2 linked regions of the Homo sapiens genome follow. The protein of the gene in region 1 purifies or fractionates together with the protein of each later gene. This does not show direct contact. Each region holds a gene or a part of one and is shown in the gene's direction. Other genes may lie near its edges.

Region 1 (2,717 bases):
CCAGGCAGCCTCCCCAGAGGAAACTGAGGCTCACTGGCTGCTTGCCAGAGTGTGCCAGGCAGCAAGCCGTTTTCCTTAGGTCTCATGTAAAGAAATGGTGGGCAGGTGGTTAGTGATGTGGAGGCAGCCTCAGCTCCTGGCGTGCTCACATCTGCCCTGGGGTGAGAGGTCAGGCTGCAGAGCCTGGTGAACCTTGGTTGGAATCCACTGGCGATGGACTTAGGACAAGGCTCTCCCCTACCTGACTGGGCTGTTACAAAGATCCAATGAGACACAGTGTCTGCAAAGCACCAAGCACACATAGGCTGTCTGTGAGCCTCCATCTCTCTGCCCCTGGGTCTGGTGCCTTTCACACAAAAGGAAGGCATCCCTGGCAGGGGATCTGATTCAGGCAAGCTTTCCGCCAGCCCTCTGTATTTCAGCTCTCAGGGAGTGCCCTTGTTCCCAAGCATCTGCCATTTGTCACCCAAGGAGGGTGGACACACCCATCCTCCCATCTCTTAGGCAGGAGGCACTGGGCTAGACACAGGGTAAGGAGAGGAGGCAAGAACTCCTCCAGTACTCTGGCCCTCAGGAGAACTGGTTAAAGGCAGGGAGTGGCACCAAGGGAAGGGAGGAGTGGCAGGAAGGTGGAGAGGCAGGAAGGCAGGGAGAAGGCAGCGTGGTGTGAAAAAAGCATGGGCAGCTGGAAGGACGGTGCAGGAAGGATGAGCAGGACTCGTTGACCCTCCTCCTGGAAGGAACGTAACCCCAGAGACATTCTCCACGTATCTGTGAAGGAGTGTGGCCAAGAACGCTTGTCCCAGCATTGTTCCTGGTAGTGGGAGTTGCAGGCAACCTCCGCGTCCACCACCGGCATGGAGAGGAAAATGTGACGGAAGCCAAGCATGGAATATTAGGCAACAGTAAGAAGCAAAGAGCTGGATGTACACACAGCAACAAGAATAGATCTTGAGTGAAAGCTGTGAGACATAATGAAAGCCACAGCACAATGCCATTTCTGTAAATTAAAAACACATTTGTACACAAAACAACAGCACATATTTTACAGAGCAACATGCATTTTGAGGGGTCTCTATCCCACCATTGGTGTAGGTCCCTGCAGTGGTGGAGGAGGGGCCCGGTATGGGTTTGGAGGAGAAAGGAGGAAAAATGAAAATAAAGTAAATCCACGGAGGGGTCTTGCACAGAGAGATGATGGCAGCGTGCTGTGGACTGAATGTGATTCACTCAAGTCTCTTTATTTGAGGTTTAAAAAACAGCACAGGCTTTATAGCTGGACAATCCTAGGTTCTAGTCTGAGCTCTCCCACATACTGACCCTGTGGCTGTGGACAAGTGCCTCGGCCTCTGTGAGCCTCTGTTTGTTCATCTGTAAAACGGTGGTGAAGGCTTGCCCATTGCGTGGTTGGTCACGAAGATTAAACTAAGGAGACACTGCGTTTAGGGCTTTCAGGCACAGCGGCGAGCTCCTGCCCCTCTCCGTTCCCCACTGAAAGGCCTGGAGTAAACAAGAGGGTGTTAGTCCCCTGGAGAAACCATGGGTTCTTGAAAGGGTCAAGAATGGAGAGCCTAGAAAGGAAATGAAGATCTCAGGACTCTGTCTCCTAGCACCACCGGCAAGGCCTAGACCCACTGTCCTGGGGCTGTCGTGCGTGGGCTGTCAGACCAGGCAAGTGCCCGACTGTGAAGCAGCTGCTCTCTGCCTGTCAGGATGAGTCCAGCTTAGGGTGGCCAGACTCCTCATGCTTGCCTCCGCCAGCAGCACCCACAGTTAGAAACCCTTCTGTGTTCAATTTCCCCAAGACCAGCCACTCCGAGGAATTCAGTGTAAATGAAAGGTCTGTTCCTCCCCACACAAAACTACACAGACTGGCCATCGACGGACCATCCCAGTCCCAACGCCCCACCTGGGGAACCCCCCAGGCCAGGAAAGGTCCCAGCGAGCACCAAGCATGACCAGCTCTTCCTCTTTCCTTGCAGATGATGACGAGCATGAGTGGATCACCCGTACCTGTCGAAAGGGCTAGGATGAGATCGTGGGTCACAGGCCCGAGCCGTGAACTCTGTGGCTGCCTCCACCAGAGGTTTCCATCTGCCCTACTAGCATTGGCTGCCCTGGGGGACGGGCTGTAGTTCTAGAACCTGATTTTAACTCAGGAATAAAGACTTTCTGCGGTCAGTGGCCCCAGGTGTATTTTCCTTAAAAGATTGTTCCTCAGTGGGCATCATTTAACCTGGACAAAATTGTGAGCTATAGATATTCCCAGGCCCCACCCTAGACCTCCCAATCAGAATCTCTGGGAATGGGGCCTAGTAATTTGCATTCCCAGCATTTCTCATGCATCTGAACGTTTGAGAACCATCTCTTTATAATAATAGATAGATGTAATTGAGCACTAACCGGCGCAGGTAGTGCGTGTGCATTATCTCTGCTCCTCACAACAGCCTTGCAAGGGGAAGGCTTTTGCAGATGGGGAATCTGAGGTTCAGAGAGACAGAGTGACTTGCTTGGTCTCAGAGGGCAGTAGGACCTGATCACTGTGCCCAGTCCTGCAGCAGTCATGGGTTCTTAGTTTCTGTTTCTGGTTGGGCCAGTGAAGCCCCTTCCTCATCCCTCTTTTCTGCTTATCACTAGAGACAGAAACTAAAAACCATGGCTTCAGGCTGCTGAAAGCCTAAAACAAAACAGAACACAAAAACAACAACAACAAAATA
Region 2 (7,041 bases), on another chromosome or scaffold:
TATAATCCCAGCACTTTGGCACTTTGGGAGGCTGAGGTGGGAGGATCACATGAGCCCAGCCTGGGCAACATAGGGAGACCCCTATCTTTACAAAATAAAATATAAAATATAAAACCTAGTTGGGCATGGCAGCATACACCTGTAGTCCCAGGTGCTCAGGAGACTGAGACAGGAGGATCACTTGGGCCTGGGAGGTCGAGGCTGCAATGAGCCAAGATTATGCCACTGCATTCCAGCCTGGGTGACAGGGCAAGACCCTGTCTTAAAAAAAAAAAAAAAAGAAAGAGACAAACGTAGAAAGAGTACCAAATTTGGAGCCAATCAGATCAGACCTGGGTTCAAATTGAGTTTCTGTCACTTACTTCCTTTGTGGCCCTGGAGATGCCCTTCAACCTCCTTGAACCTTAGTTTCCTCATCTGTAAAATGGGGATGATAGTACTCACCCTTAAAATTACAGAACTTGGCATAATAGCGGGTGCTTGATAAATGGTAGCTATAATTATTAATATTATATAATACATTGTTCTCCTTTATGGTAAAGTAGGTTTTAAGACACTGATTTTTTTGTTTTGTTTTGTTTTTGGAGACAGAGTCTCACTCCGTCACCCAGGCTGGACTGCAGTGACGTGATCTTGGTTCACTGCAACCTCTGCCTCCTGAGTTCAAGCGATTCTCCTGCCTCAGCCTCCTGAGTAGCTGGGATTACAGGCACCCGCCACCATGCCTGGCTAATTTTTGTATTTTTAGTAGAGACAGGGTTTTACCAGGTTGGCCAGGCTGGTCTCAAACTCCTGACCTCAAGTAATCTGCCTGCCTCAGCCTCCCCAAATGCAGAGATTACAGGCATGAGCCACCGTGCCCGGCCTAAGACACTGTTAACACGGAGCATGCATCAAGCAGCATTTGGGATGCATCAATTTTGTGAGACTTTATACAAGTTAACAAATAAGAAGGCAAAAAAGAAGGCATATGTTAAAGTATACCATGTGTCTTGTGGTGATAATCTTATATTTTATATTCTGATAATCTCATATATAAATCTGTGACCTTGAAGTAGGTTACTTAACACCTCGATGTGTTCACCAGTAAGATGGTGTGCCACTTCCAGCTTTCCCTTAAAGGATGATTGTGACCTTGTCTAAGTGCAATCAGAATGTTAAGCAGAACAGTAAGTATTGCAATTGTTTTGCATGCCTTTTCCTTTAAAATATACTTGTTATTTTTTATATTCCATGCAGGGTGAATTTAAGGTGTCAGAGAGATACCTCACCATGGATGACTTGACAACAGCCCTGGAGGGGAACAGAGTGAGAGAGATGTTTGGCTCTGGTACAGCCTGTGTTGTTTGCCCAGTTTCTGATATACTGTACAAAGGCGAGGTACGACAAGTATTTCCTCATTTCCTATCATTTCCAATCACATTAAATTACATTTAATTTAAGTGTATGAATAAAATTGTATCTGGACCCAGACCCAAGATGCAAAAGTTTTGTCGTTGTTGTTGTTTTTCTTTATTTTAAAGAGATGGAGTCTCGCTGTGTTGCCCAGGCTGGAGTGCAGTGGCTATTCACTGGTGTGATCATAGCTCACTGCAGCCTCAAACTCCTGGGCTCACGCAATCCTTCTGCTTCAGCCTCCTGAGTTGCTGGGATTACAGGAGTGCGCCACCGCACCATGCTAGGTCTTTTTTGTTGTTGTTTTTGTTTTTTAACTTGGCACTACAAAAAAAATAACTGGGACAGTTTATCCAGATGAAACTGTATTAGCATATATCTACTATGTTTCCAGTGATTTCATGTAAGCTTAAACATGGTGGGAAGTTAGTTTTGTCCTTGGACACGTGTAAGATCTGTCTTACCTACATGTCGGGATTGGAGCTATGCCGACAGTCTTCTACTCTTCTCTCTTCCTTCCTACCAGCTCACTAGGGAAGGCTCTATAGGTAGTTACATTTCAGTTTCTGGTTAACCAAAAGTACTTCCAAACCACTGGATTAGGAATGGCAAATAGTTATGGAAAATGCATTCGAGTGGTCAATCCCTTGATTTTTTTTTACTATTAATGCTGTTATCATTAATAGTAAGTAGACCACTTTACAAGAATTATTCATTGGCAAACCTGGTGCATTTACTAAAATCTTACAAAAGGAATTTGAGGATTTGGTTGGAAGAAATGTTCTCCTCTTAGTAAATTAGTCTGATTTTATATGTGCCATACTTTTGTTTTCTTGTCAAATTGTTTTGCTTTTCACTTTATAACAAAGCTCCAATACTTATGATTAACATTGGCATCTAACTTTATAACTTAAAGGCATGTAAGTATTAGTCTTATAATGTGAACTGGCTTAAGTTATTCATATTATAGCAGATCCTTGAACAACACAGGGATTAGGGGTGTCAACCCCCATGCAGTTGAAAAATCCACATACAACTTTTTTTGTTTGTTTGTTTTTTTAAACGGGGTCTTTCTCTGTCACCTGTACTGGAGTGCAGGGGCACAATCTCGGCTCACTGCAACCTCCGCCTCCCAAGCTCAAGCGATCCTCTCACCTCAGTCTCCCAAGTAGCTGGGACCACAGGTGTGCACCACCACACCCAGCTAATTTTAGTATTTTTTGTAGAGACGGGGTTTCAAGATGTTTCACAGGCTGGTCTCAAACTCTTGAGTTCAAGTGATTCACCTGCCTTGACCTCCCAAAGTGCTGGTATTACAGGCGTGAGTCACCATGCCCGGCCCACATATAACTTTTGACTTCCCAAAAACTTAACTACTAGTAGCCTGCTGTTCACCGGAAGCCTTATCAACAACAAAAACAGTCGATTGGCACATATTTTGTATGTTATGTATGTTATATATGTATTCTTACAATAAAGTAAGTTACGAAAATCATGGGGAAGGGAAAATATATTTACTATTCATTACATGGAAGTGGATCATCATAAAGGTCTTCATCCTCATTGTCCATCATGTTGAGTAGGCTGAGGAGGAGGAGGAGGAGGAGGGATTGGTCTTGCTGTTTTAGGAGTGGCAGAGGCAGAAGAAAGTCCACGTATAAGTGAACTTGTGTAGTTCAAACCCGTGTTGTTCAAGTGTCAACCGTAAATGCAAACTCCACTGGTTTTCAAATTTTACTTTAGAGTTATTTTCCCTCAGCTGATTGGAGTTTTGCTCAACTCCTCTGACTTTAATAATGGCTGCTTCATTTGTTGAGGTTTTAGAACTTGCTTTTAAGGGATTGCTCTTGACATAATTGCATCAACAGATAGACTGTTTCATGGGAGAAGAATTGTTCTGTTTCATGTCAATACTTACATTGATAAGAATGCATCAAGGTAATGTGATCCATCCACTGAAGTTGTCATTAGGCCAGATTTTTTTTAAGTTGAATTATTATTTCACTTCTAGAAATAAGAAGTTTATAAAGTTTAGCATAATTTTAATGATCCAGGCTTAGGAAGCATTTACAGCCAAAAAGTAAGTATATATAATTATCATATTATACTAAAGGGTATAATATGAAAAGTGTTTGAGAGCACAGACTATCTCCTAAAATCAAACTATCAAAACCTGCAAGCCAGCAAGGCATGAGTAGGCATGACTCAGATACAAATTAGAAGCATGAAATCTCTTTCAGCCATGCATTTAATCATGCTATCCAATATTGTGGAGGTAGTGGCCCCTGGAAGTTTACCTTGGGCCAGAGATAGGTATAGAAGCCCCTTTTATGAAGTCATAGACTTGCTTTAATTTATGCTCCCAGAATGACTTGCATTAAACTGTGGCAAAATATCTTTGAGTTCTCATATTAGCCAGAGGGTTAATATGTAGAAGACAATCATTCATCCTTACAGATTCTCAGAATCTTGGAAGAGGTAGGGTTCTTTAAGTTTAGCCACTATTTTAGGTAACTGTAGCTCCTCCTTGGTTCTTCAAATGATCCTGAAGGCTGGTATACAAACCAGTTATGCCCTAAAATTAATTGGTAGGTAGGCAATGTATAACCTGTCATTGGCTAGTTTTTATTCAAATTTTGGATATGAAAGTCTTTGGCATAAGGTGCTAGCACTCAGAGTCAGTAGGTTTTAGTGCTATTCCTTAACTTCAGTGGAATTGCCTTAGTATAGCAGAATTGCTTGAGTGTCTTATCTGTTATCACCATATACATGAGTACCCTCAAATTATCTCATTTCCCTTTCTTTTGTAGACAATACACATTCCAACTATGGAGAATGGTCCTAAGCTGGCAAGCCGCATCTTGAGCAAATTAACTGATATCCAGGTAAAGCTTTTCTTTTCTTTTCTTTTCTTTCCTTTTCTTTTCTTTTTTTTATGTCACCTTATTTCTGTCAGAGCTTACAACTAAATTATATTTCAATGAAGAGGATTAAATAATACAATTTGAGATCAATAAGTTAAATTTAAGGAAGATATTCCCAACACAATGTGTGGGCATGAGCAAAGCAGAAATGGGAAAGAAGATGTATGTTTTAAAAAAAGAAAGAAAATATTGTTCAGGACTCCACATTACTTAACATTAAAAAATAGATGTAATTTTTGGTAACATTTAAAAATCTCATTAAGAAGGATAACATAACTTTTGTTAAAAAAAGGAAGAAAAAATTTGAAAGTAGAAGCAACTTCAGGAAGAAAATTACAGTGCATGTGATTCCAACACTGAGATATAATCACTGTTAATTTTTTATGTCTTTTTATTTTTGAGCTGGAGTTTCACTCTTGTTGCCCAGGCTGGAGTACGATGGCACGATCTTGGCTCACTGCAACCTCTGCCTCCCGGGTTCAAGCAATTTTCCTACCTCAGCCTCCCGAGTAGCTGGGATTATAGGTGTGCGCCACCATGCCCAGCTAATTTTTGTGTTTTTAGTAGAGATGGGATTTCACCATGTTGGCCAGGCTGGTCTTGAACTCCTGACCTAAGGTAATCCACCTGCCTTGGCCTCCTAAATTGTTGGGATTACAGGCATGAACCACTGTGCCCTGCCATTTTTTGATGTCTTAACCTTCAATATTTTGTAAGCATTTATATACTTTATTTATTTATTTATTTATTTATTTATTTATTTACTTATTTATTTTTGAGACTAAGTCTCGCTGTGTCACCCAGGCTGGAGAACAGTGGCATGATCTCAGCTCACTACAACCTCCACCTCCTGGGTTCAAGCGATTCTTCTGCCTCAGCCTCCCGAGTAGCTGGGATTACAGGTCTCATGCCACCGTTCCCGGCTAATTTTTGTATTTTTAGTAGAGATGAGGTTTTGCCCTGTTGGCCAGGCTGGTCTTGAACTCTTGACCTCAGGTGATCCACCCGCCTTGGCTTCCCAAAGTGCTGGGATTACAGCCGTGAGCCACCATGCCCAGCCAGTATACTTTTAGATAGTTATTTTTTCCTAACAAAATGGGATCATATTGTACATAATTTTGTTACATGTTTTTTCACTGAATAAATGCTTTGCTTTTTTATATCAATAAGTAGTTTTCTCCAACACCATTTATAAAGTTTAATTGAATTCCATTATATTGATGTACCATAATTTTTTTAAAAAATTATATTATTGAACATTTATGTTGTTGGCAATTTTTTTTTCACTAGTATGGACAGTACATCCTCGATTACTTCCTAAGGATAAATCTGGGATCAAAGAGTATACACGTCTATTTTTTCATACTGCTAACTTTGTTTTGCCTATTTTTTTTCTGAGCAATAATCTACAGTAATGCCTCATCAGGCAGTTAAGCAGGCATGCTAAATACCAGATAACACTGGGCTACTCAGAAAAGAGATTATCCTGTAATTTGCAAGCATTTCACAAGTTAGAAGACTTTGTTGAAGCCAGTTACTATCCTTGTCAATTAGTAAAAATATCCAAGAGGGCCTGAGACTTACATTGAAAAGTAAAATAAAGTTTGATCATTTGAGTGATGTCGGATGGCATTAAGTCATGAAACTAAGTGAAACTTAAAGGTGGCTGAGAATGCAACAGGCCTCCAGAGAGCAATGGAGGTCCTTGGGTAGTGATAAAAATGGCATTTCTGGCTGGGTGCAGTGGCTCACACCTATAATCCCAACACTATGGGAGGCCAAGACAGGAGGATCGCTTGAGGCCAGGTGTTCAAGACTAGCCTAGGCAACATAGTGAGAACCTTCCTCTAAAAAAAGGGAAATAAAATAAAAATAAAAGTTTAAAAGAGAGTTTAAAAGGCAGTTTTAAAAGAGACTTACTCAGCAAGTTTTCTGCCAAATTTACAGTATTAAAAAGAAAGAAAGTGTGTTTTTGTTTCTGTTTGTTTTTTTGAGACAGAGTCTTACTCTGTTGCTCAGGCTGGGGTGCAGTGGTGCAATCTCAGCTCACTGCAACCCCTGCCTCCTGGGTTCAAGTGATTCTTGTGCCTCAGCCTCCCACACAGCAGGGATTATGGGCATGCACCATCATGCCTGGCTAATTTTTGTATTTTTAGTAGAGTCGAGGTTTCGCCATGTTGGCCAGGCTGGTCTCAAACTCCTAGCCTCAAGTGATTTGCCCACCTTAGCCTCCCAAAGTGCTGAGATTACAGGCATGAGCCACCGCACCCTGGCCTTGATTGTGGTTTTTTAATCAATGAGCTGCCATACTTCTGCTCTCCAGCAAAGGTTTTCTATGAGAATTTTCTGTAAGCTAAGTAAAGGAATATCTTAATATTGGAAGAAATAAAATTTAGTCAGAGTTGTTTTCTACCTTTGTACACAGCAACACTTACAAGTAATTTGAAGAGTAGCTAATAAAAATTTCTGCATGGATGGCTTAGGCATTTTAATTTTTTTAAGGTTGCCTGAGTAAATCTGAAAATAATAAATTATTACAGTTTTGCTCAAATAAAGAACACAAATAGAACAAAAAATACATAACTGGCTAGATTACATGAAAGCCTTTTTCCAAAACAGAGGTTTAGAGGCCAGGGCAAATAGGCAGGAAAAATAAATAAAGGGCATCCAAATTGGAAAAGAAGAAGTTAAATTAGCTTTCTTAGCAGATGACATTATCTTA

What was found. The genes of interacting proteins can lie anywhere in the genome.
Region 2: the proteins of MORN5 (region 1) and BCAT1 purify together in Homo sapiens (affinity purification with mass spectrometry; 2 studies listed by BioGRID and IntAct, with this or other methods). This does not show direct contact.

The regions. Positions count from the first base shown.
Region 1 is NC_000009.12:122,197,903-122,200,619, forward strand, and holds the end of MORN5 (MORN repeat-containing protein 5), read left to right. Parts: intron 1-1,982; coding exon 1,983-2,029; 3' UTR 2,030-2,181; downstream 2,182-2,717.
Region 2 is NC_000012.12:24,827,062-24,834,102, reverse strand, and holds part of BCAT1 (branched-chain-amino-acid aminotransferase, cytosolic), read left to right. Parts: intron 1-1,239; coding exon 1,240-1,380; intron 1,381-3,313; exon of another isoform or gene 3,314-3,402; intron 3,403-4,205; coding exon 4,206-4,280; intron 4,281-7,041.